Homo sapiens: one gene and its partners. The protein of the gene in region 1 interacts with the protein of each later gene in a biochemical or structural test. Each region holds a gene or a part of one and is shown in the gene's direction. Other genes may lie near its edges. The genes, in order: RAP2A, RALGDS, RAPGEF4 and RASSF5.

The links.
Region 2: the proteins of RAP2A (region 1) and RALGDS form a complex in vitro, tested with the Homo sapiens proteins (2 studies listed by BioGRID).
Region 3: of the proteins of RAP2A (region 1) and RAPGEF4, one has a biochemical effect on the other in vitro, tested with the Homo sapiens proteins (one study listed by BioGRID).
Region 4: the proteins of RAP2A (region 1) and RASSF5 form a complex in vitro, tested with the Homo sapiens proteins (one study listed by BioGRID).

Annotation. Positions count from the first base shown.
Region 1 is NC_000013.11:97,436,807-97,444,718, forward strand, and holds part of RAP2A (ras-related protein Rap-2a), read left to right. Parts: intron 1-7,912. UniProt on the Homo sapiens protein: Small GTP-binding protein which cycles between a GDP-bound inactive and a GTP-bound active form. In its active form interacts with and regulates several effectors including MAP4K4, MINK1 and TNIK.
Region 2 is NC_000009.12:133,096,566-133,104,477, reverse strand, and holds the end of RALGDS (ral guanine nucleotide dissociation stimulator), read left to right. Parts: intron 1-146; coding exon 147-215; intron 216-644; coding exon 645-731; intron 732-1,215; coding exon 1,216-1,248; intron 1,249-1,577; coding exon 1,578-1,699; intron 1,700-1,906; coding exon 1,907-2,002; intron 2,003-2,338; coding exon 2,339-2,540; intron 2,541-2,715; coding exon 2,716-2,958; intron 2,959-4,095; coding exon 4,096-4,210; intron 4,211-5,715; coding exon 5,716-5,891; 3' UTR 5,892-6,756; downstream 6,757-7,912. UniProt on the Homo sapiens protein: Functions as a guanine nucleotide exchange factor (GEF) activating either RalA or RalB GTPases and plays an important role in intracellular transport. Interacts and acts as an effector molecule for R-Ras, H-Ras, K-Ras, and Rap.
Region 3 is NC_000002.12:173,046,161-173,053,621, forward strand, and holds the end of RAPGEF4 (rap guanine nucleotide exchange factor 4), read left to right. Parts: intron 1-2,439; coding exon 2,440-2,494; intron 2,495-5,479; coding exon 5,480-5,607; 3' UTR 5,608-6,733; downstream 6,734-7,461.
Region 4 is NC_000001.11:206,502,603-206,510,996, forward strand, and holds the start of RASSF5 (ras association domain-containing protein 5), read left to right. Parts: upstream 1-4,928; 5' UTR 4,929-5,000; coding exon 5,001-5,457; intron 5,458-8,394. UniProt on the Homo sapiens protein: Potential tumor suppressor. Seems to be involved in lymphocyte adhesion by linking RAP1A activation upon T-cell receptor or chemokine stimulation to integrin activation.

The DNA of each region.
Region 1 (7,912 bases):
AGAGTTCATAAATTCTCTTCACCAGAATTCAACCGTTGTATACATAAGAACCTCTTGGACCCTCACTTGTGTGTCTTTGTAATATGGTAGTAGTAAGGTATTTTACACCTCATCCTAACCCCAGCGTCTGGCTTCCCATCATTGATGGAGAGGACATGTGAATGCAGGTGGCCTCTTCTTTACCAGTCTTTCAGTATTTGATATCTACTGTCAAATTCAGTATTCAGCTTTAGGTCTAGGTCAGCACTTTTCAATAGAGATATAACGTGAGCCACATATGTAATTTTAACATTCCTAGTAGCTGATTTTTTAAAAATAACATAAATATATGGAATTAATTTTAATGTATTTTATTTAACCCACCATATTTAAAATAGAATCATTTTGACATGTCAGTATTCAAAAATTATTAATAAGGTACTTTACTTCTTTATACTGTGTCTTCAAAGTTTGGTATGTGTTTGACCTACCACATCTCAATTCAAACAAGTCACATTTCAAGTGCTCAGTAGCCGTATGTGGCCACAGGCTGCCATATTGGACAACAGAGGTCTAAGGTGTATATGATTTGGGGAAATGCTTGCTTATTTCTCTAAGCTTCAGTTTCCTTATCTGTGAAATAGAGATTAGCATGCACCTTCCAGAGTCCTTGTTAGAATTAAATGAGATAATGTATTTTAACATTCCCAAAACAATACCAGTACACAGAAATTGCTCAAAAAATTCTAGCTGTCATTCTTACTTTAATAACTTTGTCATTTATCTTCCTTAAATGTTACCCTTGATATAAATGTAATTTTAGAAGAAATAAATTTGTAATTGCATTTTGGAATTCATTACTTAGTATATTCAAGATGAGACTAAAAAGCAATGAGGTTAAAATAATCCTTGGAAGAATTGTGTTGGTATTCTCTTGAAATTATTTCCCCTTATGAAGGATCTGATGGAAAAGGGCATGAGAATGAACATTTAACTTCAAGTACAGTATAGCAATAATGCATAGCACTAATGCATAGCCAAACAACGAATGGAGCTTTTCATTTTTCATTTTCATTTCAAATAATAGCAGTCATTTTCAAGGATTGCTATTACTTGAAATGTTTCACTTTTAAGAAATGTGAAACTGACCCATACTCCCTTAAGTGTCTGTAAGTGTACATACCTCCGTATACATACATGACCTCTTGTCAAAGCCAAGTGGACCAACTGAAAATGGCTATATTTGTAAATTCATATGCTTTCTTTTCTTAACTTGATTTTGGGTGAGATGACACACACAAAGAAGAGTAACAGGGATATAGGAAATGTTTTTCAGTTGAAATAAAACTAGAATTTTTTTCTGATTTTGTAATTGCTTTTTTCATTGTTACCCATGCCAGGATCAGCCATGGTCCTGACATGAAGTTCTTGGAACATGATATACAAGGCCTCTTTGCTGTTAGGAAAAAGTCCAGAAATCTTCAACATGACCTTTCACAGTCCAGCTTGCTCTTATCCCTCCCTGCCTGTGCAGCCTCACCTCTTGCACCCATCCTTTTATTCTAGCACCCAGACCTTAAGTCCTTGAAAGTACCTTTCTCTGGGCTCTCCTTTGGCCTGTGGAAATCTACCTTTTTGCAGAGTTAATTCCTACTCCGTCTTTCACCCTCACCCCTGCTTAACCCATTTATACCGGAGGTTGCAAATGTTTTTTGTGAAATATCAGACCTTAGCAATGACCTTGAACAGTAGGATATAAATAACTCCCACAAGCTTAGTGTTCCAATAATGGAACACTAGGCATAGATGAGTTAAAAGATTTTTCCCCACTGAGGGAAGATGTCCTCTCAAACCAAAGTAACCCCTTTCCTGTCTTCCCTTACTAAACTTTATGCCTCACCTCTTTGCTCAATCACACATACCCTGTCCTTTCCCTTTTCTTTGAAGCACTCATCCAAATTTAATTATTTGTGTGATAATTTATGGGTAGCCAGCCTTTCTCACAAAACTCCAAGCCCACGTAGGTGACACAGCTCCTACTAGCACATAGGAAACAAGAAAAAATGTTGAAAAAATGAATGTTCAGAAAGAAAAGTATTTGTATTGTTGTTTGGCCTCAGTTTCCCTAAACATTTTGATTTCATAGATGGAGGAGATGATCTTTTAAAGTTCATTTTGCAGATGGAGATGATCTTCCTTCAGCTCGAACTTTCTGTGAGAACACTTCCAGTTGGGGCAGTGTTTAATACGAACCTCAAAGAATCAGAAACATGATGTATTCCAGATGGAGGAAATGGCACAGGAAATGCATAGAATATGTTTTTTGGATGTTAAATAGAGCAGACTGGCCAAATGGGGAATGTATATAGAAGTGTGAGGGGAGGTAAGGTGAAAATTTTTAAAGCTAAATTACTGAAGGTTAAAGACTTAGGAGTTGATCATGTAGTCAAGGACCATAATCACAATTGTCATAGGTATAGCAATATGTAGTGATATGGTAGATGTCTTAGTGGTAATAGACTACTCTGTTTCATAACAGGAAGAATAGTCATAAATGTTGTGATAATCCAGTTTTTACGTGAAGTGTGAAAATCCTGAATTAGCATGGTGTCTGTAGTAACAGGAGAGAAAGGATGCAAGGAATGTTGTAAAGAATGAAGTAATCAAACTCAGTGGTAGAGGAAGAGGAAAAGGTCAGAAGTAACCTTGACATTTTGAAATGAACAAATAGGATTATGGAGGAATAGCTGGGGGAGATTATTTTCAGTTTTGGAGATGGTAATTATCCAGATAGCCAGCCTAATAAGTAATTAGAACATTTGAATAAAGCCTGAAAGGTCAGGTTATGTATGAATATGAAGACTCAGGATCATCTGCGTAGTTCAGATTGGGAGAGTAGATGAAACCTACTGGGTAGAGTATAGAGACAGAAATGAATGGATATGGCTAACAATAGAAATGAGGAATGAATGAATATAGCCAAGGATAGAACTCGAGAGTTGTAAGATACACAGTGGAGACTTCCTATATTGCAGTAGGCGAGAAGGCGTGGGGTGTTTTAAGATTGGGAAAAAGATAGTTGACTAGCACTACCCAAGGTGAGTAAGTTGTTTTTTTTTAAGATTATTATTAATTTTCTATATCACTTAAGTGGTCACTTTCAAGTGAGCTGGCTGATTGTTTACACTTTCCCCCTTACCATAAGTAGCTATTAAAGCCTACTCTAAAACAGAAGCATATTACCAATTGTTACACATAGATCTTTGGCCCATGACAGTTTGGTGCTGGAGAGCCGAAACGAGAGTATACATCAAAAGATGTCTGTCCCAAGTAAGTGAAACTTCTGGAGCTCTGCTACCGTTTTTCCCTCTAAAAATACCTGCTTCCCCAGTACCAAAACTTAATTCAAAGCTGGACCTCCCAGGTACAGAGCCTAATAGCTGTGGGTCACTTTTTTTTTGTTTTGTTTTGGTACTGGTGAATTAGTAGGAAAAATTTTTAATAATAAATATATATAACATGAAGAATTGATGACTAAATCCTGAAAGTCAGACATAAATCCAAACAAAGAATTTGGGTATGAAGATAAGGACTGATGGTGAAACCTCTATCCACTTAAATACAAAACTAAGATAAAAGAATTGTGAGAATTATGGCTGCCAAACAGAATATTAAAGTTAAAAAGACTGACAATATGAAACAAACAATATAACTAGTAAGTCAGGATGAGAGGAGGGAAATAGTTATGAGTGCTCACTTCATCTTTCATGAGAGGGATTTAAATGGTCAAAAAATTGAAATTTGTTTTGAAAATGACTCGAAGAGCTCAGTGTTTTTCATGATCTTTTTTTCTTTAAAAACCACTTTATTGAGGTATGATTGATGTACAAAAAGCCAGACATATTTAATGTGTACAACTCAGTGAGTTTAGAGATAAGCATACACTTGTGAAATCACCACAATCAATGCTGTAAAACTATCCATCACCTCCAAAAGTTTCCCCCTGCTTTATTTATCTATCCATTCATTCATTCATTCATTCATTTTTTTTGTAGTAAGAACACAACATAAGTTCTGTCTTCTTAGCAAATGTTTATACAATACAGTATTGTTAACTAGAAGTACTATTACCATACAGATGTCTGGGACTTACTTATCTTGCATAACTGAACTTCATACAGTGAATCACTTTATGTGGCCCAGAAGTTTTTCCTGAAAAGGAAACTTTTGTTTTGGCTGCATTGTAAAATTACAGGTTACAGTATATAGTTTTCTTTTTGCCACTCCAGGATTGTAATTTTTAAAGCTCAATTTGGAGTTGGAGGAGATGATGTCTCTTCCTCTCTAACATTCTGTGAGAGCACTTTTGTCTGGCCGGGGTGATGAGGGAAGGGGTCAAGTTTAATATGAACCTTAAAGAATCAGCAGCCTGTGACCCACAATTTTGTCTAGTTAAGATTTGATAATTGTATCAATAAAATCTACAATAAGGAATAATTATACTAATACTTATTTTTTAATGGAGGGCAAAAATAATTTAAATTATTAAACATTAAGGAAGAGGTAGAGGAACTAAGAAAAATCACTGGATTTCACAGCCAACAGGAAGAGCCAACAAAGTTGGAATCTATTTGCTAAAGTTTCAGTAGCAATATACTTGAGTGATTTAATTTCTGTGTGTGAAGTTCTGGGAAATTACATATGGCACAATAAGGTGCATATATTATGCATGTATATGTACATATTTTTAAGCAAGGATCTTTACATAAAACCAAGTACACTGTACTTAAGGGAATTTTTTTTCAGGGGTATTTTTTTCTTTTCAGTTCTCTTTTAGTCATTGTCTTTAGAACCTTACTGCCTAGGGGAGCATGTATGCCTTACTCTGGGGTTTTCTTTGCTTCTGTTTTGATTTTTCCCTGTTTTCTGTTTCTCTCCATCTATTCTTACCTACTGTTTTTTTACACACTTATATTTTTCAGGCCTATGTTGTAAAAAGAGTTTTAAGTACTCTAAGTTTTTTTGGAGTAATAAGAGTTTGAATACGAGCAGACTTTCAAACAAGGTAAAACTGATGGTGACTGAATAGTTACTAAAGGAAATGTATAGATATTGTGTTTATGTAGGAAATTTATCTTGAAATTTTAATGGTGTGCAGAAATATGCCATATATTATATATTGCCATTTCATTTGTTACTTTGACACTTGTGGTTCATATCATTAAAAATTATTCTCAGCCTGACAGAGAGAAGTTTAATTTCTTAAACATCCTTTCTGCTTTACCAGATCAAACTCAGCCTTTTAGTAGAGTAATATCAATAATAGTAATGCTGTAATTGTGGACATCTGCATTTCAGTCAAGTATGTTAAATAAAGCATAAATATATTAGTAAAATTTAAAGTAATCAAAATAACTAAAAACAATATTTGAAGATTCTAATACATAATCTAGCTAAGATTTTGTCATGGTATGTATTAAATTCTTTCTCTGGCATAATTGTATAGATGGGGATTTGTTTTTGTTTTTTATTTCTCTAATACATTTAAGATTTTAAAACATACCAAAATTTATATTTAGGGAGAAATAAGGTGACTTATAATTTTTATTTTTAAATTGTTATCTGTCAAAAAGCCAAATATTGGAAAAAATTAATAACTATCTCTATTTTTATAGATCCACTCAGCAGGGGATTTCACATTTTCTTAACCAGGGCCCTCAGTAAGAAGTACATTTTATATTGTGACTTAGTGCACACATAGGAATAAATACATCTAGCCGAAATCAACATTTCATAAGACAGTAAACTTGCTATGTTGCTTGTATTACTTTTTCTATTTATTTTTTTCTATTTTATTTCGTTGTTTTTAAGTGCTTTTCATGACCCACCAAATTGATTTTATCACACATAGCTTGGAAACTGCTATCCTAGGACATTTTTACTCTAAGAAAACTAAATGTAACTATCTGTTTAATATTTCATCTTCTCTCTCCTGCTTTTCTGGTTCCCAGCAATGCTGTGTAAGATTACGAAAATGAAGTACTTCCCAATGTGAGTTAGTAAATACTACCTGTAATTCAGAGAAAGATAGCATTTAGTCACTGAACAAAAAGATATAGCATATCTTTTGAGAAAGCATTTATCTCTGTTGTGCATATTAGAAATATGAGAATGTATTTCTCATGTAATGTTGTTCATTCTAGTAATTCAAGATAACTTTTGCCTTGTGAAAACTTAGAACAGAGAAAGGGAGGTTGTGGTAGTATTCAGACTTGAATACATGAGTGCGGGATTATCTATTTCAAGAACAGTTGCTGAGGAGGTTCAGAAAACTCAAAATAGAGGTCTGCTGCATCTATCCAGGATAACACTGATTCACCTCTCCCTGTAAGACAGTAAAACTATAAATATCTTAAAATCACTTAGTAAAGTTACCCAAGAGAAACATTGAAAAACCTTTATTTAAAACATTTAGGAGTGTTCTCATGCTTTCCTGACCCTTAGAAATTAATAATTCAAATGTGGAAATACTATATTAATAATTCAATGCATATTAGTATTTTCTCTACTAAGTATCTTTACAGCTCTCTCTCTGTAAATGAAATCTTAGAGTATTTTAAGAGACAGGGTCTTGTTCTGTTGCCCAGGCTGGAGTGCAGCGGCGCCATCAGAGCTTACTGCAGCCTCTAACTCCTGGGCTCAAGCAACCCTTCTGCCTCAGCCATCTGAATAGCTAGGACTACAGAGCAGGCACCACCGCATCCAAGTAATTCTTTAAAAATTTTTTCTAGAGATGGGATCTTGTTATTTTGCCCAGGCTGGTCTCAAACTCCTGGCCTCAAGTGTTCCGACTACCTCAACTGCCCAAAGCACTGGGATTACAGGCCTGAGCCACTGCCCCTGGTCCTAAATTAATTCATCTTTAGGTTTCCAATGAACATTATGAATACTGTATGTATTATAATTCTCGAATGGAGTATTTTATTGTATATACTTATCTTCTCATCCATGAAGACAGCGAATGTTAATCTCATTAAAGCTGAGATCCAGCACTTATTAGTTATGTAATTAGGAGCAAGTTGACATTCCTTGCATTTTAATTTCCTCATTTGTAATATGAGTATGATGTAGTAACTCGTGAGATAACGAACGTAAAGTGTTTCTTTACATAGTGAACCTAAAATATTAATAATAAAGTTTCACCAAGAATCACAGAAATAGGAATGAAACCCAGCCTTTTATCTGTATACTGCCACGTGACTTCTTAGGAATTAGGCTCAATTGTCTTACTATATTGAGATGAATTATATACCTAGTATAGTATAACATTTCTGTTTTTCCCATTGCTTTCTCCTCTGTGTTTTAAGTGCTCTAACACTACGTTATAGAACTTATAGCATAGACCTTGAGTGCTTTGTGTTTTTGCCTTCCCCTAGAGACCTAAATATATTGGCTATAAATGGTGGCGGTAAATTTTTTGACTCATGAGGAATTGTGATGATTTTTAGTACACATATTTTAAATATTAATATGTGACATAAAAAGCAATCAGCATATTAGTATTTGTTAACACTTCTCTTTTTAAAAAAGTTAATAATGACAGTAGACCTCTTTATGAATACCAAATATGCATGGGGTGAAGATAATTTTAACAGTCTTTATGGCTAGTTATATATAGTAACATGCTGGCATAGCTTTTTAATAATCAAATTGAGAAAAGTTTTGTCTTTGTATAAAAGTCATCACTATCAACTAATATCATTTAAGCCACCTCATTTGCATAGCATTGCCTTGGGCATTATACAGAATAAGAACAAGATACTATCTTTGTCCTTCTGGTGTGCCAAAATGTCCTATAAATGGGTATATATTTTGCAGTATTGAGTTATACAGAAATATATTTTTAAAGACACTTTCATTTCTAAGTTTCAAA
Region 2 (7,912 bases), on another chromosome or scaffold:
GCCAGGCCACCGGCCCAGGACCCCACACTAGTGAGTATTGATACAGGGTCAGCCCTGGAACCCGACCACACTGGCAGCACCCCAGGTCAGGGTGCCTGAGGGCTGAGGGGATAGGGCCTTGCTGACCCTGTCCTCTACCCTGGCAGGAGGGCACCTCCAAGTTTGCCACCCTGGAGATGAACCCCAAGAGAGCCCAGAAACGGCCGAAGGAGACGGTGAGAGTGCCCAAGGCCGCGGAGGGGCAGGGGGCTGGCCTGGGGGTAGGGAGGAGGGCCCTTTCCTCTCTAGCCACGGTGCCTATGGGCCCCATTAGAGGTAGCCTCCTCTGGACCCTAGCAGAGCCACACCTGGATCAGCTGGTATCTGGGAAGACCAGCTGCAGCCACGAAAGGACAGGCCTGGCAGAGCCGGCTCAGGCGGGTGTGGGGCTGGGGAGGGCCAGGGGCCACACGACTTGGGAACCTGGCATTTCCCAGATGCCAGCCAGGGAGATGGCTAGAGGGAGTCTGGGGTCCAGGGAGACAGTGGGCCCCAGGAGGCCCCCAGAGGTCCCCCAGCTGTTCCAAGTGAGACCAGTTGGGGCTGGGGGCTGAGAAAGCCTTCAGGGGAGGGGCCTTGCTCATCCTCCTACCCCAATGTCACAGGGCATCATCCAGGGCACCGTTCCCTACCTGGGCACGTTCCTCACCGACCTGGTGATGCTGGACACTGCCATGAAGGACTATCTGTATGTGAGTGTGCCGGGCGGGGCTGGAGTAGGGCCCGGGAGGAGAGACCTTCCCTGAGCCCTGGGGGCTGGGCTGCCACACCTGTCCCAGCAATGAGTAAACAGCTCAGTGCCCTGCTGGTGACACCCCAGGGCTGCCCAAACACAGAGCTGCAGCAGGGTTTGGCTGAGTGGGACACAGCCCATCCCTCAGGCAGTGACCCTGAGCACAGAGGGAAGCCAGGCCCTCAGCGGTCAGGCGGCACGTGGTGGCTGAGCAGGGCCTTCTCACCCAAGGCCTCAGTCCATTGTCCTCCGAGAGTGCTGGACAAGAAGTCCCCAAGCCTCTGCCCGCATGTCCCCTTGCCCTGGTGCCCAGCACCGGCTTCAATCCAGGGGTGTGCGTGCCCTGCCCCCTGGTGGGCACTCTTGATAGTGCAGCATGAGGTGGGGAGACTGTAATGGTCAAGGGGTCACTTTCTGACGGCCATTGGGTGTCCACCTTCCAGGGCAGACTCATCAACTTTGAGAAGAGGAGGAAGGTAAGCAGCTGCAGGCAGCCCTGACTTGGGGAGGGGTGGAAAACAGACCCACCAGGGTAGGACATTTCAACTCCTACCCTCTCCTTAGATTCATGGGACATGGGACATTTGGACACAGAGAGAAGGGGGTCCCCTCCCACTGGAGGGTGAGGGTAGGAGGTTATAATCCAGGACCACCTCCTGGGGAGTGGCTGAGCCCAACTTTGAGAACAGGAAGGCCTGGATGGGAGTAGAGGGGAGGAAGGGACCCCAAGAACAAAGACCCAGAGACTGGCCCCTGTGCTGCCCGGGGGGCCTTGTCACCGCCCTGTGCTTCCCTCTGGCCCCAGGAGTTCGAGGTGATCGCCCAGATCAAGCTGCTGCAGTCGGCCTGCAACAACTACAGCATCGCGCCAGATGAGCAATTTGGGGCCTGGTTCCGGGCCGTGGAGCGGCTCAGCGAGACTGAGAGGTGAGGCCGGGGCAGCAAATGGGGACAGTGGGGGCAGGCTGTCCTAGGGGGCCAGCTCCAGAGGGCCAGCAGCTATGACCCATGGTCAGCCTCAGCCCCTGTTGCCTGAGGATGGCCGGGGCACCCCGACTCCAGCTTCTGGGCAGGTGCTGGGGGAAGGCCGGAGCATGGCCCCTGGTTGTCACACCACTGCCCCTCTGCTCATAGCTACAACCTGTCGTGCGAGCTGGAGCCCCCATCCGAGTCAGCCAGCAACACCCTCAGGACCAAGAAGAACACAGCCATTGTCAAGCGCTGGAGCGAGTAAGGGCCTGGCCAAGGGTGGTAGGGGCAGCTGCCTTGGGGCTCAGAAGCTTCAGGGCTGAGCCTGGGCTCAGGGAGTCAGGGAGGCTGGCCCTGGAATCCTACCCTGCTGCTGACTGGCCCTGAGACTGGGATGAGTCCCCTCACCTTTTTGGGCCTCAGTTTCCTCCTCTGTGAAATGGGGTGATACTAAATGCTCTCCCAGATGGCTGTGGTGAATGGAGTACTGGCAACTGTCCCAGCACTTTGCACAGTCCTTGGGCGCAGGGTGCAGGGGCTGTGGGGTTGGGATGTGTCCTTGGGGAGCCCCCTTAACTAAGCCAACTCTTCACCCAGCCGCCAGGCCCCCAGCACTGAGCTCAGTACCAGTGGCAGCTCCCACTCCAAGTCCTGTGACCAGCTCAGGTGTGGCCCCTACCTCAGCAGCGGGGACATCGCTGACGCGCTCAGCGTGCACTCGGCCGGCTCCTCTAGCTCCGACGTGGAGGAGATCAACATCAGCTTCGTCCCGGAGTCTCCTGATGGCCAGGAAAAGAAGGTGACTGCCTGCCCTTCTCCCCAATATCCTTTCCCATCTCCCCACTCCAAATCCATGCATGGGGCCAGGAAGCCCTGGATCCTGAACACAGCTTCTAGAAGGTTCCCCATCTGGCAGCTGGCCTGGGGTGCCCCCACAGGGCAGTGGGATCTGCTGATCTTACCGTCTCCCTCAGTTCTGGGAATCAGCCTCACAGTCATCCCCGGAGACCTCCGGCATCAGCTCAGCCTCCAGCAGCACCTCGTCCTCCTCAGCCTCCACCACGCCCGTGGCTGCCACACGCACCCACAAGCGCTCTGTCTCAGGGCTCTGCAACTCCAGCTCCGCGCTGCCGCTCTACAACCAGCAGGTGGGCGACTGCTGTATCATCCGCGTCAGCCTGGACGTGGACAATGGCAACATGTACAAGAGCATCCTGGTAAGCCGGCGGGGGTGGCCTGGGTGCCTCCCTCCACTGGCGGCAAATGCACCCTGAACACAGTGCACCATCCCTGCCCTCCCGGGGTCTACCTTGTAGTTGGCGGGGAAGGACAGATGTCAGCCAGGTACAGAAATGAAGAAGGTAGTGATCAGGGACAAGGCTGGCCTGAGGGCAGAGGGGGAGGAAAGGAGCAGCCGTGCAAAGCCCCCAGGAGCTGAAGGGGCGGTGCTGTAGGGGAGGTGAGGTCAGGGAAGTATCCAGGGCCTGGCCACATAGGCCCTGAGCCCTGCCAGGACCTCGACTTTCTCGGGGAGGAAGACAGGAGCAATGATGGCTGGCTTCTCTGTCTGGTGTGGGCTGGTACCAGAGCCGCAGGGGTGTTGGTTAGGAGGCCGCTGTGGCAACCAGGCTGGGAGCCCTGGAAGGGGCCAGCAGGGTCAGAGTCTAGACAGGATTTGGAGACAGCAGATGGGAATTGCTCACAGAATGGGTTTGCCTGGGGGCTCTTTCTTCATCCTCCAGGTGTCCTGCGACAGATGAACCATTTGTAACCCCCACCCTCTGTACCCCAGCCCTGGGTCAGGTGCCCCATTATTCACACACGCTCCTGACCCCTCATTGCCAGGAGCTAGCATGGTTGTCATTAAGCAGTCACCTGTGGCCCTATGTCCGAGTTCCGCCTGTGCTCTGGCCCTCAGGGTCAAGGTAGCAGGGGCCTGGCCTATGCTGACCACACTGAGCATCCTGGCCGGCCCCTCCTTTCTTACCTCCAGGGCTTGGACTAGGGACTGTCTGTTCCCCAGGCTCAGTGATGCTGTTATCCTGGAGGGGCAAGTGCTTCTCAAGGAAGTGTGGGAGGAGGGAACAGTCTCTTACAGGAGAAGCAGGGTAGGCACTGCTGGGACAGACCCCTCCTCATTCCATGGAGGCCTCACATGGGGAACAGAAGGACGGAGGCCTCACTTGGGGAGTAGGAGAATGTGACAAGGCCCTCTCCGGACCCAGCACCTGGCCAGAGGCTGTGAGTGCCTGTGCTTGGTGCTGAGGGGACTCCAGAGGGTCCTTGGCCACTGCACTCTGGGGGAGCCGCTCCAGGGTCTTTTCCCTGATGGTCCATCCCCCGCCGCGATGCAGGTGACCAGCCAAGATAAGGCTCCGGCTGTAATCCGCAAGGCCATGGACAAACACAACCTGGAGGAGGAGGAGCCGGAGGACTATGAGCTGCTGCAGATTCTCTCAGATGACCGGAGTAAGTCAGAAGACCAGAGGGCGATGGCAGAGGGGGCAGGTCCACACCACTCCCCAGCCCCAGGTTGGAAGCCTTTGGCCCCAGAAAATTCACCAGCAGAGTGTGGGTAGACACTGTGGACAGGGCAGCCCTGGCTGCCCCCATTGTCTGCTTGCTGTCCCCAGCAACCACTGGACCTCCCCAGTGTGTGCCCTTCCCTAGGCGTGAACAGGCAGTTCAAAGCTCACATCAGTGAGGAGCAAAGAGAAAAGGCATTTTTCACTGGGACAGGTTAGCCACGTGGCCCACTGGAAGGGACTCTTTCTGGCTAAGACAAGAAAACATGTGCTCTACAAAGAATGGTGACAGCTGTGGACCAAAGTGTCAAGTGTTAAAATCCATGAGTGTGTGATTCTAAAAGCAGAACAGGCTACTAGGAGGCCAACTCAGTATTCTAGAAACTGGGAAAGTGTCAAGAACCAGTGCAGGCTCAGAGTGGGGTATCCTGGGCCTGGAGACGCTGGGCAAGCTCCTTAAGCCCTCTGTGCTTGTCTTCTCATCCCCCAAATGGAAATGAAAGTAGCCAGTGTGTTCATCATATATGTAAAAATCTATATGTATGTATATATGTGTATATGTATGTATATATGTGTATATATATGCATGTATATGTGTGTGTATATATATGCATGTATATGTGTGTGTATATATATGCATGTATATATAAAGCATCTATGTGCACCATAAAAGTTAACTATAAATACTATCATCGCTGTTTTCTTTCCAGTGAGCTGAACACCACCTCCCACCATTAGCCCAGACAGTAAGCAATGACTCCTGTGATCCCTAGAAGTTACAGTCTAAATCCTCTGGCAGCTTCTTGCACCATTTCGGTTAGGTGGGCAGGGTAGGCGGGACCCCCATCTTACAGAAAAGGAAGACTGAGGCCTAGAGAGGTTAAAGATGACGAAAAGCCACACGATGTCGGCAGGAGCACAAATCGAGCCCAGCTCTGGTTTATAGCAGGCTGTGGGCCAGAGGAGATGGTGGGAAATGGAGCCAAAAGGAAGTGCTTGCCGGGTGCCAGGGTTCAAGGAGTACAGGCCTCCCTGGAACGGGCGCCAGAGCCCTGGGGCAGGCCTGTCCTTTCCTGGTCCTTGGATCCCTTGTCCTGAGTAGGGCAGGATTCTGGGAGGTGACCTGGATTCTAGAAAGCCTGTTCCAGGTGGGCAGCCAGCACTGCAGTATGGGCAGGACGGGGTGACCCTCTGCCAGCTCAGGCCAAGCCGGGGGGTTCTGGAGTCAGTCCCTGTTTAAACAAGAGTCATCAGGTTTTGTGAGGACCTCAGCAGAGTCTGTCCTCAGGCAGGAGTCATTGAGAGGGGTCCTTGGAGTTCTGGAGCTGTATTGGAGGGGATCTGAGGTCTGTGGCTCAAGACAGTCCTTGTATGGGCTCTCAAGCGGTAGGGGTATCCTGCAGGGCCCCCAGGAGCATCCCTGATCACCCCTCTGCCCCTCCCCACCAGAGCTGAAGATCCCTGAAAACGCCAACGTCTTCTATGCCATGAACTCTACCGCCAACTATGACTTTGTCCTCAAGAAGCGGACCTTCACCAAGGGAGTGAAGGTCAAGCACGGAGCCAGCTCCACCCTCCCTCGCATGAAGCAGAAAGGACTCAAGATTGCCAAGGGCATCTTCTGAGGGCATCCTCCCAGGGTCTGGCTGGCTGGTAGCCAAGCACTTATGGACCAGAGTGGCCCAGGCCAGCTGGGCGCCTTCCTCCCACCTGCCAGCCCAGGGTACCCCAGACTCCAGTTTCATCCTGAACCTCTCCCGCTGCTGGGATTGACGCCTGCCATTGGTCAGGCTGACCTGGCCTCCCGTGGACCACTCGCTGCCTTAGGTGCCTTCTGCTCTCTGGAACCAGAGGACTAGCTGACTTTTGCCAAGGAGCAGTGCCAACGGGCATGGCATGGTGCCCTGCCTGCCCCCGGGCGCCACCTCTGTACACTTCCCTGACACCTTCCCAGGTGTGGGTCACTGCCACCTGTGCCCATGGGCACCCCAGAGCACCCACTGTGACCACTGCAGTTCTCTCATGCCCACAGGCACTGGCCTGTGACCTTCGCAGGGGTCCCGGCCCCTCCCACCACTCTAGCCTTTCTCAGGCTGCACCAAAGATTCCATCATCAGGGCCAACTGAGAGTGAGGGAGTCTCACCCACCGCTTACCCCAGCCCTCCCCTGGGAGCAGAGAGAGAAACCCTCTTCATGGACCAGACTCTGCACCCGGTGAGTGAGGACAGTCCCAGCTGAGTCCCATCGATGTTGAATCTCATGCCACTGCAAGTGCCATTCACCACTGCGTCCTGGGCTTTACGAGACCATGCAAGACGGGGGTTAGTGAGGAAGGAGGATTTGGGGTGGGGGTGGGGTGATTGAATATTTGTATAAAAAGCAAAAAGAAAAAAAAAATGTTTGTTTACTGATTGGGGAGGGGCAATATTTATTTGTTGTAAATAGCAAATGCTAGACTTGAATATTATATTAAAATCCTGTTTCTACTATACCCTGGTCATTACAGTTTTGTTCTTTCATTACCTGTCTTAATTAAAATGAGATAGAGACTCTCACATTCCGTGTTTAAGTAAGGACCCTTGCAGGGTTATCCAGTTATTTTATGCACAGGAAAAGCCAGCCACTCTTCTCAGCACACTGAAGGAAACACAAAAGTTTACCTTTCATACAGCAGATGTTCCTTTTGGCACCATTAAACTGGGAAATGTGCTGAGACAGCCCTCAGAACTCCTGGGACTAGAGTTTGGAGGTACTTTCACAAGGCATAGCAAGAATTTCTGAAATTTAGCTGTCTTTAAAAGTAACATTTGTGGCCAGGCGTGGTGGCTCATGCCTGTAATCCCAGCACTTTGGGAGGCCAAGGCAGGTGGATCATGAGGTCAGGAGATCGAGACCATCCTGGCTAACATGGTGAAACCCCATCTCTACTAAAAATAAAAAAAATTAGCCAGGCATGGTGCCAGGCACCTTTAATCCCAGCTATTCGGGAGGCTGACGCAAGAGAATCGCTTGAACCTGGGAGGCGGAGGTTGCAGGGAGCTGAGATCACGCCACTGTCCTCCAGCCCGGGCAACAGTGTGAGACTCTGTCTCAAAAAATAATAATAATAAAGTAACATTTGTGACAAAAGATGGCAGAGTAGGAGGCCCCAGGGTTCAGTTTTTGCACAGAAACAACGATTAAGCTGGAAGAAAGAAAACTATCAGAATAAACTGTTTTGGGACTCTGGAACCTGGTCGGACATAGTCACCAGGGGAACACTTGGTGAAGGGAGATGCTGCTGAACTCCAACAGTTAACAGGATCTCCATCAAGTCACAGGCTGACCAAGAGACAACAGAACAGAAACTTCGTGACTATACACAACAAGGAATACAAATATAAGCCTGGCAAAAATACGAATATAAGCCTGGAAAAGTCACTATGGACACAGAAGACTGCATCCTTCAATAAGCAAAAAAGCAATTCCTGAGGAGGGAGACAATCTGATTTCCAGAGTCACTGCATTATAATACTCAATGTTCAGTTCTCAAAAAATTACAAAGAAACAAAAATATGGCTCATTCACAGGGGAAAAGAGGATTTAACAGAAGCTATCCTTGAGGAAGCTCAGACATTAAAATTACTAGTCAGAGACATTAAATCA
Region 3 (7,461 bases), on another chromosome or scaffold:
TTATCTTTGAGAACAATTAAAAAGGATACGTCAAAATTAAAACCATTGTTAAAATTAATCAAAGATTTAGAAAGGTAGAATGAACTTCAGGGCTGGAAATTACTGATTTAAACAATTGTTCTCACATTTTAAACTACATGAGCTAAAAATTATGAAGTCTCAGAGTATAGCTTTAAAGAGTAGCATAAAACCAAAGTCAGAATGAAATGTTTTAGCTTTCAAAACTAAAAAGCAGAACAATTACTCCCTACAAAATGGTATAGGAAGAGGTTTCTGACCCCTGCTAATTGTTTTATTATTCTTCAGAGGGGCATACTGGCAGCATTTCCCAGGGTTTTCGGTAATTACACTCCATTCAATATCTGAAGAATTACAATAATTCTACATGGAATATACTTGTGCCCTTCAGATGCAAAGCCTTTAGAGAAGTGAAAAAACAACTTAAAAGTAAATTAGCAGGGAAGTTATCATAGTTACTATTTATTTCACGGCTCCATATATCAAGGGCTAATTATACATTGTACGTTACATTTTCTGGGAGGGATTTGTGATATGTTTCTCATGCTGATCAACAGATGGATGTGTCAGTTTTCACGATCTTTGATGAAGTGAAGTTCTAACTTTTCCAATTGCCTCTTTGTGTGCGAAATTATCCAATGCAGGTACATGTCACTTCAGGCTTGCTAGAGTCCTCAAAGCAGTAGTATTCAGTGAGGTATTATGATGCTTGCAGATAATATATTTGTAAGGCCTTGACTCATCTATGATTTTTTTTTACACTATGTAAGCTTTCTCAAAGTCATTTTCTTATACTTTGGCAAGCCAAGGGTCCGTGAGAGAAGAAAGGGTTGACTAGAATTACATAGCTGCTCAGAGATCGGGGAGTCTCTTTCCCTGGGTGGAGCCTTATCAATTTTCTGCTAGTGTTGTAATTAATCTATTATCTCCACAGGACCCCCTTTAGAGCCTGAGCAGTAAAGTGTCCTGAAACATACATAGTGACCAGGAGTGCCAGCTATTGTTCAAATACCGTGACATTCTGGCTAAGAAATGGAGCGTAGGTCTCATCAGTGTTTTTCCCCAGGGGATAGGAGTCTCTGTTTCTGTCCATTTTCTTTTCTCTTTTCTTTTGTTTTTAATTGAGCTCAGCACAAAAGATTCCCTTTTAAGTCTTTATTGCAACCAAAACTTTACAAAGAAGTTAAGATGATCACTTAGTGACCAAATTTTAAAAGGTCAAATCAATTATAATCTGTCCATTTGGTTGAATACATGCTTTTTAAAAAATGTTTTAAAATGCAAATGGCATGGAAAATAGTCACAATGCAATGTGAAAAATTTCAAATCAAAATAAAATATGTATGTACTATATGAATTCAAATCTTTTAAAAACATGTTTTTATATATTTTTAAATATAAGAAGGCTATATGCCGAAATATTAACAAGATTACTCTGTGAAGTAATATTCTAAGTGATTTTTACTTTGCTCTTAACATTTTCTGTATTTTCTGAATTTCTTTTTTTTTTTTTCTTGAGACGGAGTCTCACTCTGTCGCCCAGGCTGGAGTGCAGTGGCGCGATCTCGGCTCACTGCAAGCTCCACCTCCCAGGTTCACGCCATTCTCCTGCCTCAGCCTCCCAAGTAGCTGGGACTACAGGCGCCTGCCACCACGCCCGGCTAATTTTTTGTATTTTTAGTAGAGAGGGGGTTTCACCGTGTTAGCCAGGATGGTCTCGATCTCCTGACCTCGTGATCCACCCGCCTCGGCCTCCCAAAGTGCTGGGATTACAGGCGTGAGCCACTGCACCTGGCCTGTTTTCTGAATTTCTAAGATGTGTATATGTTAGTGTTATAATCAGAAAGGAGGAAGAAGGGAGGGAAGGAGGGAATCAAATCATCAGGATTAACATTAAAATGCAAACTTTTGCTGGAAGATTAGAGAGGTCAGTAATACAGAGTGTGTAGCAAAAATGTGAAGGTAGAATATTTTGACTTGCTGTTCAGCCAATAAAATCTCATACCTCATTAGTGAGTCTTATTTACTGTGAGGAACTTGATAAGCTAACCCTTCTCCACATCTAGGATAGTTACAGATTCTCTTACAAATTCATGGCAACCTCAAGAAAGGATGGTGAAAAAGCACTAATGTACAGTCTCAGGCATGATAGATGTTTTTTACATCATGGGGAATATGCCAACAATTATGAGAGTTATGCCATTAATATTCCTTACCTGAAAATGCCTTGTATGTATGTGGGTACCCCTTTGAAATAATTAAACAAGTTATACATCAGCTAGTTGCCTTCAGATAGTCAACATCTCAGAACATGTCACTTCTCATGGTACCAAGTATTGCAGAAATGGTTTGTTTTCCTTTTTGGATTGTACTCTACGCTTACTTGAATTTCTATCTTTCTTTTTTCTATATTCCTTTTAGCGCATGATTGCAAATACGGCCAGAACAGTGAGATACTACAGGAGCCAACCCTTCAGTAAGTTAAGTGCTGCCACCTCTTACAATGTAGATGTTGGTGATTAAGGTCTTCTTAATGAGGCCATTGAGACACCCTTGGAGCCTGGGAAATATCTGACTGTGTCAGAGACACTTTGGACCATGAATTCCATGAGATAGGGGCCTTGAGTTTAAAGATTTTTTTTGCTGTTTTAAACTAGAACATATTTACATTGTTGTGAAACTAGAAAATCACCATAGGAATATTATTTTGTGAATGAATTTAAAGAGATTTAATTTGCTCTATCCAGTGCAGCTGGAGACAACTAAAGTACGACTGCCAACAAATCCTGCCTCAAACCAACTCTCTTTATGACTCATTGCTCCATGTTGAGAAACTCACATCAGCCCTTGATGACTCAGTTCAGTCAATTATAAACCAGGAAAGATAATATTTATTGTCTTTCAGGGTGTTGCAAGAATGCATTAATGTTTATAGCACATTCGTAAAAGGTCCAAAAACAGGATTTCATATTATATTTCTAGTATTCCCACATGAATTTGAGGTGCTCTTTTAAAATCTGAACATCTATCACAAGAACTGGTATAATACTTTAATATAAAAAAATTACTAATAATAAATAACAATTTTAGTCTGTTGGGAGTTAAGTTGCATCATAGCACCAGATGGTCATACTAGACCAGTGCTACTGTTTCTTCTGGGCTGGGACTTTGGTGGTGGGGGTGGAGCTTTGGCTCCCTCAATCTGGTCTGGAAATGAGAAGGTGAACACTAAAGGTTTTTGCTAAGCTCATTGTATGACTCACTTGAAGAAATTTATCTCATTAACTCAATATGATACTATGACATAGACATGAATCTGAGGCTACCAGTACCGTCTCCTCCAATAAACCGAGTGCTAAGAGACTATGATGTTCTTGTTTTATTAGTCAGAGTTGTTTGTTCTTCCTAGAGCAGGACTGGCTCATGGCCAGATTTGCTAACATGGGACACCAGAACTACTAAATGTTCATTTTTTAATGAATAGGGAGGAAAAATATAAGAAAAATGACATTGATTTGGGGAGCAACTGATTCAAATGACTGTGCCTTCTCTGACTTCCAAAATGTGAATAGTCTTGCAATATCATCAACTATTCTTATGTGGATTCAGCCAGAATTAAAGTGTCTCATGTGTTTTCATCTATTAATTTACGTTGTGTTTAAAGATGTGATCATAAAGCAGTTGTACAAGTGGAAACAAGAATAGATAAGTGACACCAGTTACAACCGGAGTTTATAATCCCAAATCCAGCAGCGGGGATAAAAGGGGACCCTGAAATTATATGCCAAATCGTGTGTGCCTGAGGGGGTTTATAGCCTTAAGAAGGTTTTCAGTGAGGCTCAAGAACCATAAAATAATATGCTTTGTTTTATGAGCTTCTTTGGAAGTAAATCTTGCATTCTTCTATGTCACCTCCTAGAGAAGCCAAGGGGAAAATGTATTTAAAAAGAAAAAACTCCACTGCATTTGTTGAAGTTATCAGTAACTGCTGGTAAACAACAGCTGCTCAGCTCTGAAGTCAACAATCTATAGATAAAGCTATAGGAATAGATTCACAAACACTGTGGGAATGTGTACAATGTAATTACAGTATATTGTACGTGTAGAGTACACTGCCAGTGAGAAGCAGAGGAAATTAAACACAATGTGCTCTGCAGTTCGCTGTGGTATTATTTCTATGTGATAATTATACTGATGAGTTTCTTCTCACAGGGGGCAGGGGCATGTATGTCTTCTCTCTGCTTTTCTGCCTTCAGACCTGCAACACTCCCCTTCACCCCTTGTGCAGATGGCATTCTAATTGTCTTTGGGAGTGCTGTGTGGATCTAGCAGGAGCAACCAGACTGCAGAAGGCAGTGTACTGTGGTGGAAACCCCGGTCAGGAGCCAGGGTCTGGCTCTGCCACTCCGGGTGTCCCCTTAGACCAGAGGCCCTACCCAGTGATGCTTGAAATGGAGGTGGCCCACAGAGGTGTTGGGTCTAAAGAGAGCATTTTTTTCCCTTTTATTTTGAAATAATGTCACCATTTTAAAATTGGGAGAATTCACGAAGAAGAAATCCAGATTTCCCATTTCTTAACAAAAAAAAAAAAAAAAAAGGAAGATCTGGCAACTCTAGGCACAGATTCCCCGTGGCAGCAACATGCAGAAGCCAGGTCATCACTTCCAGAGGGACCTGTGTTTCCAGTTCACCACCTTCTGGTCTGGCTTTCCTTATTCATGTATGTTCCCTGCGAGGGCTGAGTGCATTGGCTCATCATTCAGCCCTGATCTTCATTAAATTGGTTAACCTCAGTTGCTCACATGCTTGGGATGTGCATCAGAATAGAATGGTAGCTGAGTTTTCAGAGCAGATAGCATTAAAGAATCAAACGTCTAGCAGAAGTCATAACTTCAGCCTGTGAGTTGGGTTTTTTCTGAATATGGACAGTCTCTAAGAACATACAGTCGGTATAGTAATGCTGTATACTGTGTGCAAGTAAAGAGGGGAGTCAGGACTCTGTAGTCTCACTGGCTTGCTTCAGTTTGGCCCAGATGTTAAGCGCTTTTGTGAGGGGCTAATAAAAACTGTCTTTTGACATTAGTCTTCATCTGGATCAAAGGAGGCAGAGACACAGAGTGTGAGACACAGAGACCTCTGGAAAGGGAAACAATTTTAATCTATACCCAGGGGCTATCAGACACATGCTTCCCTTTTAATTTGGTGCCATTTTTTTTTTACAACGTGCAATTCAAAGGAGAATGATCAAAAGAGGTGATTCCAGGGAAGAAAAGAAAATTGGAGGGTAGGAAGGAGGAGATGGAACAACCAAGTGGAAACGTTTCAATGATTGTGGTGTGTTGAAAGGTCTTGAGGGAACCCAGGAACCTATGATAAATGTAATAAATAATTGGAGAAGTAAGATTGTATCTTATATACATATATTACACAATGCCAATTCTGCCCTTTCCTCTTTCAACAGATCCTGATGCAGCTCAAGCTAATAAGAACCATCAGGATGTCCGGAGTTATGTACGGCAATTAAATGTGATTGACAACCAGAGAACTTTATCACAGATGTCACACAGATTAGAGCCTCGTCGACCATAGACATTTCAAATGCCCAAAGCAACAGTTTGTCTCCAGTCCACAATCTTTCAAAAATGCCATTTATGCTACTACTGACTGTATTGCCACTAGAGAATTCTACAAAACAAGCAAAAACACATCCTGAGACACCTCAGGGCTGCATTCAGCTTACCAGCTACCTAGCAAGAGAAGGAATTATTTGACATGCCTAAAGCTTACACACTCTAGCTTAGGAATCCCCAGTTTGTGGCTACCCTGTTTCATTTCCACTTGTGCCATCTTCTTTGCTGAAGTGTTGAATAAGGCCCACGTGAAGAGTTTGGTAGAAATAGCCTTGTCAAGAGAACTAGCAAGCCCCTGACATTTTTTTCTAAGAGTGTTTATGGGATGAGATGTGCTACAAATGGGATAGATTTGGATAAAATTTTAACTCAACATCTTGATTTGGAGCCTGGGGTTTCGGGAAGGTGTTGAGGAATCTATAGAAGTCCAAATTATAGGTTGTATTCTTCCATCTTCATTGTCTTACCTCTGAAGGAATAGAACCTGACCACATTATTATGAAACATTATGGCTGTTTATGTAATTTAGGGAGGACTGGTCTGTAATTTCTGAATGTATATAGAATAATATTTATGTTTACAATGTAACTTTTCAAAATTTACAAATCAGGATTATATACATAAGAATTCCACTAAGAAATGCCAAGATTCTTAAATTTGCCAGCGTTAAAGTAGAAAATAACATTTCAGAAGAGCACAATATGCATAAAACATTTTTCAAAATTGAAATATTTTCCTGGGCATTAAAAACCTTTACTATTGGCTACAAATTTATTGTACCTGATGAAAACATATTTTCTGGACTTAAATGTTATTACAAATATCTTAATTTTCAGTAATTGTTTTGCACTTTCAAAGATTGTAAATAGTTCATTCAATCAATGGTATGGAGTTATTTATTTGCTACATAATAGATACTGTGCCAAATAATTACTTTTTATTTATTTTATTTAGTACGTAATTTTGAAGTACATTTTTTCCTGTTTTCACAATTAGACTACATTTAATGTGTAGGAATTGTATGTATGTATATCTTCTGTAAATAACATCTAGTATCTTCACTAAATATAATTGTCGACAAGAAATGGTTGTGTTCATCTCAATTCCTATAATATGAAAGGGGTAACCATTTGGTATGGTGGGGTGTTGGATCTTTTAATGACACAAAATACACATATTATAAAATTCATTCTTTTAAAGTGCAGAATCCAGTGATTTTTAGTATATTTACAAAGTTGTATAGATAACCATCATCACTATCTAACTTCAGAACATTCTCCTCATCCCTAAAAGAAACTCTGAACTCATTAGCAGTCACTTCTTCTTCTCCTCTCCCTCCAACCTCTGGCAACCACGAATCTGCTTTCTTTGTCTTCAGATTTACTCTGGATGTTTCATATGAGTGGAATCATACAGTATGAGGCCTTTTGCGTCTGGTTTCTTTCACTTAGCATAATGTTTTCAAGGTTGACCATATTATAGCTTGTACCAGTACTTCATTTATTTTTATGGCCATGTAATATTCCATTCTATAAATAGACTACATTTTGTTTATCCATTTATCAGTTGACAGACATTTGTCTGTTGTGTTCACTTTTCGGCAATTAGGAGCATTGCTGCTCTGAAGGGGCACTGGATTTTAGAGCTCCCTTGTGTGGGGCCTCATGCCATTTCTCAGTGATTTAAGTACTTAGCAAATATTTGATGAAGAGATATCCAAAATTCTTTAAATTCCAGACATGCCTCTATTTTTTTTAATAAGTCAGCATTTTCCAGAGTGTGTTCCAGCCTATTCTAGTCTCACAAGTTCACA
Region 4 (8,394 bases), on another chromosome or scaffold:
GTCCAGACTGTGATACCTGTTTGGGCCAGTCACATGACTTCTCTGAGCCTTGATTTTCTCACCTGTAAAACAGGAATGCCAGCCATTTCACAGAGTTGCCATGAAGATGAAATCATTCAAGCCAAAAGTGCCTGCCGCATAATAGATGCTCAATGTATGTTTCTTGAGCAGATACATGTAACTTATGGCACTTTACAAGGGATTTCTCTCACAAACACATTTTGATCCTCCAACAACATTTTGTCATGGTCCCTGCTCTCAGTCTAGTAATGTAAAATATTACTGACCCCCATCACACATTGCAAGCAGCACTCACTTCTTTGGAAAGCTGAGCTCTGCATGCAACATGCTGCCCAAGAAGGAAAGGAAGCAGCACTGGAGACCTGTGTTTCATAGCTAACCAAGATAAGGGCATTTTTTTCCAAATGTCTGTGGAGGGGGTCACACCATTTTAACTATTTACTGCTGTAACCCCATTTTTAAAGTGTAGTCTGTGAGCCATCTGAATCAAAGTCTCTTGCAAAATCCCGGCCAAAATCCAGACATACTGAATCAGAGGGTCAGGTCCCAGAATAGGCATTTTGAACAAACTCAGGTTCATAAAGCTTGAAAAGTTTTTGGGGCTGTTGTGCCTGTTGTTCTCTTAGTCTGGGACACTCTTGTCCAGATTGACAAAGGGCTTGCTTCATTCAGATCTGCTTAAATGTCTGCTCCTCAGAAAGGTCTTTCCTGACTACTCAATCTAATAGAGTAGCCTCTATCACCTTCATCCCCTTAATGTGCTTGATTTTTCATCAAAGTGCTTACAACCTGATATCATATTACTCTTGTGTCTGTTTATTGTCTGGCTCTTTCACTAAATGCAAGCTTCATGAACATATCCATTTCACTGTTGTACCTTTAGTGCCTAGAACAGTGCTTGATACATAGTGGATATCAGAGAATTACTCATTAAATGAATGAATAACTGCTCTATGCCCTTGAAGATTGCACTGGCCATTAGCGCTGATTGCCAAATATTTCCAGCCCTTTCCCCTTCTGAGCACAAGGTAGAATTTTACATCTGCTCCTGTTTGTAGAGTGGGGTCATATGACTAGTTCTGGCCAATAAGCTGTGAGCAAAAGTGACTGGAGCTTTTAAATGCTGATGTGGGATCCTCCAGGCTCTCTCAATCTCCCTTTGGCACAGTGACTGGCAATATTAGACATGGTGAGTCTGATGAGAAGAGAGCACCTGCCAACCTGCAAAAGGCATGTAATGTGAGCGAGAAAGGAGTCTGTTATTTCAGGGCACTCAGCTGTGGAGCTTATTACTACAGCATAACCTAACTTGTCCTGACTCTTACAGTGATTCCATGTAGACAGTTGTGCAACTGTCAGAATCCCTGGGAGTTCCCTGAAAGCTTCGGGGATTTCAGGCGACTTCAGACGCCTCAAAGTCAAACAAAACCAAAAATGTCCCCTTCAGGAAGTCAGGCCATGTTCTGTCCTTCCGTTTTCCTTCTTACTAGGGAACTTGGGGAGGGAGGCTGGGCGGCAGCAGTTAAACAACTCACCCAATGGGAAAACCAGCACGCTCTGGGACCACCTCTGAAGTGATCTCACACCCTGACCACACACTCTAAACTCACTGTCATAATCCTTCCCCTTGGTCAAAAATAAAAGCAGCACACCCACTCTGCTGGGAGTGAGTCACAAACAGAAAAAAGTCAATGGGTCTGAGCCAAGAGGATCTACTAACAAGGGGAAAGATCTCCCAGTGGAGGTGTTTCAGCGGATGCTGCGGTCTTACCCTTGTAGCCTGGATGACCAGACAGATCAAAAAAAATGTTAAAGTCCAGGCATCTGACACTACCCCAGCAATGTCCTGAGCTTATAATGAGACTAGAGTTTCTTTAGCACTTCTTCCCTGGGGAAGAAGGAATACTCTGCTGTTCATGTGGGGTGTGTGTGTGTGTGTGTGTGTGTGTGTGTGTGCATGGGAGCAAGAAAGAAGTCTATGTGTGTGTCGTGGGTTGGTGGGGAAATGCTATTTCAAGGAAGAAGGGGACTGGGCTGGGAAAACTGGCATCAGAGGAGACATGCCCCAGCCAGGGAGCCTCACATTGAGGTTAAGAAGGGCAACTGCCCGCCCCAACTCTAATTTCTTGGCTCAAGGAGATGAACTTTAAGATAAACTTTATGATAAATTTTTTGATTGGTTACATGGAGTTATATGATTAATATCTCCATTTTCATCTCTTTTCCCACCCCAGAAGCCAAATATAGGGCTCTGGCCCTGCACAATCTCCTCCCACATTCATGCTAAGAGCAGCCACTGCCACTCCACCAAATCAGAGCTGCAGGAGGAAAACAAAAACTAGAGCATTTTTCTGTACAGCCCAGACAACTGGGGAAGAGTTTTATGCCTGATGGTTTCAGATAGCCCTCAGTTTCCCGTGGCCAGAGATGACGCTCCTCCTCATGAGTCTCTCTATCCAGGAAATCTGGGCTGGGCTGCCCAAACCATGCTTTGAGGCTGCAGGGAAGGACAGAGATGGAGACTGTTAGCAATTATTTCACAAATGGCTTTTCAAAGCCGATCTTCCAGGGATGCACTTGTTGTCAGATCCCTGCTGCTTCTTGCCCCACCAGGCTGTCACTCAGAGCTCAAGCTGTTTCCATGCCCAGGACCTCACCCACCCACTGCACTCCAGGAAGGGGATGAGTCTCAAGTGTGTGGAGATGGGTAACAGAGTGTGGACACAGCAAATATTTATATGGAATACAGATTTCTGCAACAACCCCAAGAGAACTGCTTGCAGAAAAAGTGGGAGATTAAAATAAGAGACCACAAGGGCAAATTGTATTTTCCCTTTTACACCTTCAGCAGAAAGTATTCAGGAATAGCCCTCATTGGGCTTTTATCTGTCAGGTCCACTGAAGTACACTTGTCCTGGGGAGAAGGAACAGAGAAGCCCATTCTCAGAATCACCACCTCAGACCTAGAGCAATGGTTTTCCAAGTTGGGTCCCTGGATCAATAGCATCAACACCTGGGAACTTGCTCAAAATGAGCCATCTCAAACCCCAGCCCCAGACCTATAGATTCTGAAACTTTGGGGATGAAGCCCAATAATCTTAACAAGCCCTCCAGATGACTGTGATGCATACCAAGGTTTGAAAACCACTGATGTAGCAAAAGCAAGGTTAGGAGAGGGAAGAGGAAAGGTAGAGGAGGGGTGGGGCAGAGGCGGTGGCCTGTGGCTTACACCCCTCATCGGAGCTCCTCTGTTTGGTAGCACTGTGGGGTTGACTGTCCCATGGGTCATTCCTCAGAAACCACCTCATAGGGTGAGCTCCCGCCTCTGGTGAGCCCCCAGAGCCCCAGGAACCTCTCTTCTGCTACAGATTTGGGAGGCAGAGGACTATGATTACCGTGAGGGAGAAGCCATGGAGCAAAGCTGGCTGGGAATTCCCTGGCCACTGGACTCTGGAAATCTTAGGAATTACCTAAAAATTACCTCCAAGGGAAAAACAAAAAGCAAAAGTGAAGATTCCCCTACGAAGCACTAGGGGGAGACCCATCTCTGGCCTGGGAAGAGAAGGGAGAGACCAGGTCCAGAAGAATTTAGACTATTCTTCTAAAAAATGACCACCGCTAGACGGACCAAACCGAACCTGTGTTTTAAGAGGAAAGCTGTGATCACTGAGTCATAATGACGGAGCTGGAGAGTGCCACGTTAACAACCACCTGTCTCCCCACCTCCAGCCCAATGTACAGTTAACAATACTGGGGCTAGAGAGGGCCAGGGCCCAGGCCCAGGTTCAGAGATCCAGGAGTCCTCCTTATCCATAAGATGGGCCTGTTTCCATGGGCAAAGGTGCCTGTCAGGAACAACTACATAATTTGTGGGAACCAGTGCAAAAAGAAAACGCCTGGCCCTTTGTTCAAAAAGTAAGACTTTCAAGATGGTGACCGCAGAGCGTTAAACCAGACAAGGGTCCATGAAGGCTTGAAGCAAGCCTTCACGGGGGAAAGTGCCGGGAGAAAGGAGATCTCTCTTTGGGTCCCATGAGTGAACCATCCATACCAGGTTCCACTTAGGGCATTTAGGGGAACTGGTATCTCCACAGTAATTACTAGAGCAGCTCTGGGGAACGGAGGGTTGGCTAAGGAAGAAAAGCTCCCCCAACCCTTGGGGCGAGGGAGCGTTCTCTCAATGGAGCCCCCCCAACTCCCCTCCACCCCCCACCAGTCTTCCAGGAAAGAGGAATACCCTACCCGGCAGGGCTGCGAAGGAAGGGGAAATCCAACCAGAGCGAAAGTCGCACGCGGACAGCTCTGCCAGCCCTTGGAGGCATCCGGCGGTCACCCACGGGACAAAGCGCGGCTGCGGGAGCGCGCGCGGGGCATTCCGGACCCGCGTCGAGCTCCGCTCTAGAGGGGGCGGCGGGCGGCGACAAGCCGGAGAGAGGAAGGGCCAAGGAGCACGGCCCTCCTGTCGGCACCATCAGCGGGAGAGTGGCGAGCGGACGCCTAGACGGAGGGGCCCTACTCAGACCCCATCGAGCCAGTTCCCAAGCTTTTCCCTCCGACCTGCTCCCTCCCGGGGCGCGTGAGGGTGCGGGTCGGGGGTGAACCTGGTGTTGGGGAAAGTGATTGGCAAGGGAAAGAGGCAGGGCTGAAGGCCTAGGGCCCCCCGCAGAAATGCGCCCTCTGAGCTGTACTGTACAGAGGCGCTCCTCTGCGGAATCCTGCAGCTGCTCCAGGTGAAGACGCCCCCAAATCCACACTCGCGCAGACGTCGCCTGGCACGGACCCTACCCCCTTCGGTCCGTCGGCGGTTCTCTTGGGTCGTCCTTCCTGCCACTCCGACTCTCCCCGCCCCCGCCCCGCCCAGCAGGCTGCGGTTCCTTTAAAGGCGCGCTGGTGTGGGGCGGCCCCTTCTCTCGGGGCTGGCTCGGGAGTAGCGCAGTCGCCAAAGCCGCCGCTGCCAAAGCTGCCGCCACTAGCCGGGCATGGCCATGGCGTCCCCGGCCATCGGGCAGCGCCCGTACCCGCTACTATTGGACCCCGAGCCGCCGCGCTATCTACAGAGCCTGAGCGGCCCCGAGCTACCGCCGCCGCCCCCCGACCGGTCCTCGCGCCTCTGTGTCCCGGCGCCCCTCTCCACTGCGCCCGGGGCGCGCGAGGGGCGCAGCGCCCGGAGGGCTGCCCGGGGGAACCTGGAGCCCCCGCCCCGGGCCTCCCGACCCGCTCGCCCGCTCCGGCCTGGTCTGCAGCAGAGACTGCGGCGGCGGCCTGGAGCGCCCCGACCCCGCGACGTGCGGAGCATCTTCGAGCAGCCGCAGGATCCCAGAGTCCCGGCGGAGCGAGGCGAGGGGCACTGCTTCGCCGAGTTGGTGCTGCCGGGCGGCCCCGGCTGGTGTGACCTGTGCGGACGAGAGGTGCTGCGGCAGGCGCTGCGCTGCACTAGTAAGTGTGAAGGCAGGGGAGGGGCGTGCGGGGAGACCGCAGTCTGGGGGCGAAGGACTGGGAGGGCCCTGGGGCAGGGAGAGAGGGGCCATTACACTCTTTGGCTCCAGGGGAGCCCCGAACATAAGGAGATAACAACCCCTGGGGACAGTCCGCTCCTTAGTTCCCTGCCCGGTATCCTTTAGTGCCTGCCCACTACCTAGGTATGGTTATGCGGTAGTTAACAGATACCTGTCTCCTGACAGGTGCGTGCCTTGGCCCTCCACACACACACACACACACACACACACACACACTCGCACACAGGTTGTGGGGGGTGGGTGGGTGATGGCCTCGGCGGCCTCTGTCATCTCCCTGTGCACCCTCATGGTTTTGTTGTGAGTTCTTGGGAGTGGGTTGTGAGACTGCTGTTGAGATGACCGTTTGACCCTTGCTTATTAGGGTTACTGACAAAACGCTTGTTTGTCCGCCCATGGTACAGGCTCAGACCTCTCCTCCAGGGGGACGTATTGGGACAGGGAGGAGACCTTGTTAGATTTTGGATAAAGGCAGGCTGTGAGGCTGAAGAGAGCCTGAAGTCACCCTGAACCCGTGCCCCCTCCTGCCTTTCACCTCTGGCCCCTCAAACCTTTGGACTCTGCTCCAATGTTTGGCTGTGCCCTGCCTCCTCCCCTTCCTCCTCCTGGGTTCCTGCCCTAGTCGTCATGCTCTAACATTACTCAGCTCCTGACAGGGTCCCTTCCTCTCCACAGCCCTCAGGCCCCTCCAGTCACCTCCTGAGCCAGGCGCTTCTCAAAGCCAGAAAACACTGGGCCCCCAGTGTATAGATTTTCTGAGCCAATCTTCAGTCTCCTTGGGGGTTTATTATTTTTCTCCTCCTACAGTTAGGGGTGTGTATGCCTTTAATAGGTGTCCACCCTCCACCCCCACCCCGGCATTTGCTCTTGCGTGTTTATCAGAGGATATCCACAGCCATGTGTTCATGTGTTTACATGGATATTTCAAATATCTGAAGCCCAAAGCACAGACAATGGCACAGCCTCTAACAAGCATCTCTGGAAATGGATTGTGGTTTGCATCTTTCAGCAAAGGCCCTTCCCCTATGGCAGCAGCCTCACGTCTCCCATCCAACTGCAGCGTTGGACAGCAGCAGTGATTTCCACATCAGGAAAACCCTACCCTTTTTCTGCCTGCAGTCTGCAGCGGAGGCTGTTCAATGTGCTGCCCGCTGCAGCTGGCTGCAGGGAAATAGAACTCAGACACTAAGCCTGGGTCAAGTGGAAGGGAAAGATTGGAAGGGCAAGTGGGTGCTGCTCTTTCCTCCACCAGAACCCCCAGTTCAGGTGCTAATTAAGAAGGAAGGAGTAAAGGTTTGTAGAGGTACATGTTGTGGGTAGAGGGGCTGCTGTCCCTTGGTAAATGCCTTTGACTACAGTAGAATCAAATGCAACTTATCCTTGGATGTGTTGGCAGCTTTTGCACTTTCAAGATTCCCTTACTGCATCCAACAACCCTACACACAGGGAGAGAGGCAGGAGCCTCACTGAAATGGGTTTTATCATAGCTGGAATCCCAGGAAATCTGCTTCGTTGGCATTCTAGTTTGTAGTTAGACTTTGGGGGACTGTATCACTTGTTGAAGATTTTGCACATAGTTTTGTGATTTTCTTTTTTTTTTTTGGTTTGGTGATAATGGTGCGTTTGTGTGTATTTGCGTGTGCCTGTGTGTGATACTCCATGACTAAATGAATTGATCCTTACGTCACATCAGAATTGTCGATCTCCTTTGATTAAGTCATACGTCGTTTCTAGTGGCAGGAAGATCTAGGCCCCCGGGCAGTACCTCTGACTTTGTGTGTGACTTGGTGAGGTCTTTTTACTTTCCTGGGCGCTCATGGTCCCCCACAGAGTTGGTTTAATGCTAACGATGTCTGAACACTGGAGAGAAAGCAAAACTGGAATCGAGGGGCTACAGAAAGGAGTCTCTGTTTGTCATGATTAATATTTAACTAATTGTGAACCTATGGCTGGATGGCAAAAGTTGAGAAATGTTCTGATGTGCAGATGAGGGCTGGCAGGTGGAGACACAGCAGGCCAAACTCGCTGAGCATCTTTCTTTAAGTTGAAGGTCTGATTCCATGGTGAGGTTGCTTTGTTTTATCTTCATTTTGAAAAGCAAGTGTCAGAAATAGGACTTTAAAAAAAATCATACTATGCAGTAGTTAAGAGTACAGACTGGAACCAGAGCCCTGGGTTTGAATCCTGACTACCACTTAGTCCCCACGTGAGTCCTGGACATCTCTGTGTTCTGCTTCTTTGTTTAAAAAAAATAGGATAATGATATTACCTACTTCATCATGTTAATCTGAGAATTAAATGGATTAATATACATAAGGCACTCAGAACAGGGCCTAGCAAAATGCAATACGAATGTTTAATTCGATATGATTGTTATTGTCCCCTCCCATCTAACAGCTGTAACAACTAGTCTGGGCTTGTGACACCTCCTAGGATTACCTTTCGAAGCAGTGAGTACAATTTGCGAACTCTGCCTGGTTGCTGAGCTAAGTGGGGAAGTGACTGCCATAGACATCCCAGAAAATTTGGGTATTAGGTGTCCTCTAGAAATGCCACTCCTACCTGATGTCCTGCTGTGGCTGAGGAGACCCTTCTTTGCCTGGCATAGGGGCCACGAAGCCATTGGCTCCTTGTCTTTGTGTTTCTTGCACCCAGCAGAGTGCCAGGCCCAGAGCAGGGTCTCACTATGTGGTGAGTGATGAAAGTGATGGCTTGTTTGTGCTATTAAATATCCCAGCCCTTGGAAACAAGCAGGAGGGCAGTGGGTATGTGAGTGACATCTGTCTGCCCAGGAGACTGACACTGGGTGGGAACCATGTTGGCAGAAGGGCACTTTAGTAAGGAAAGCATTTTGGAAAAC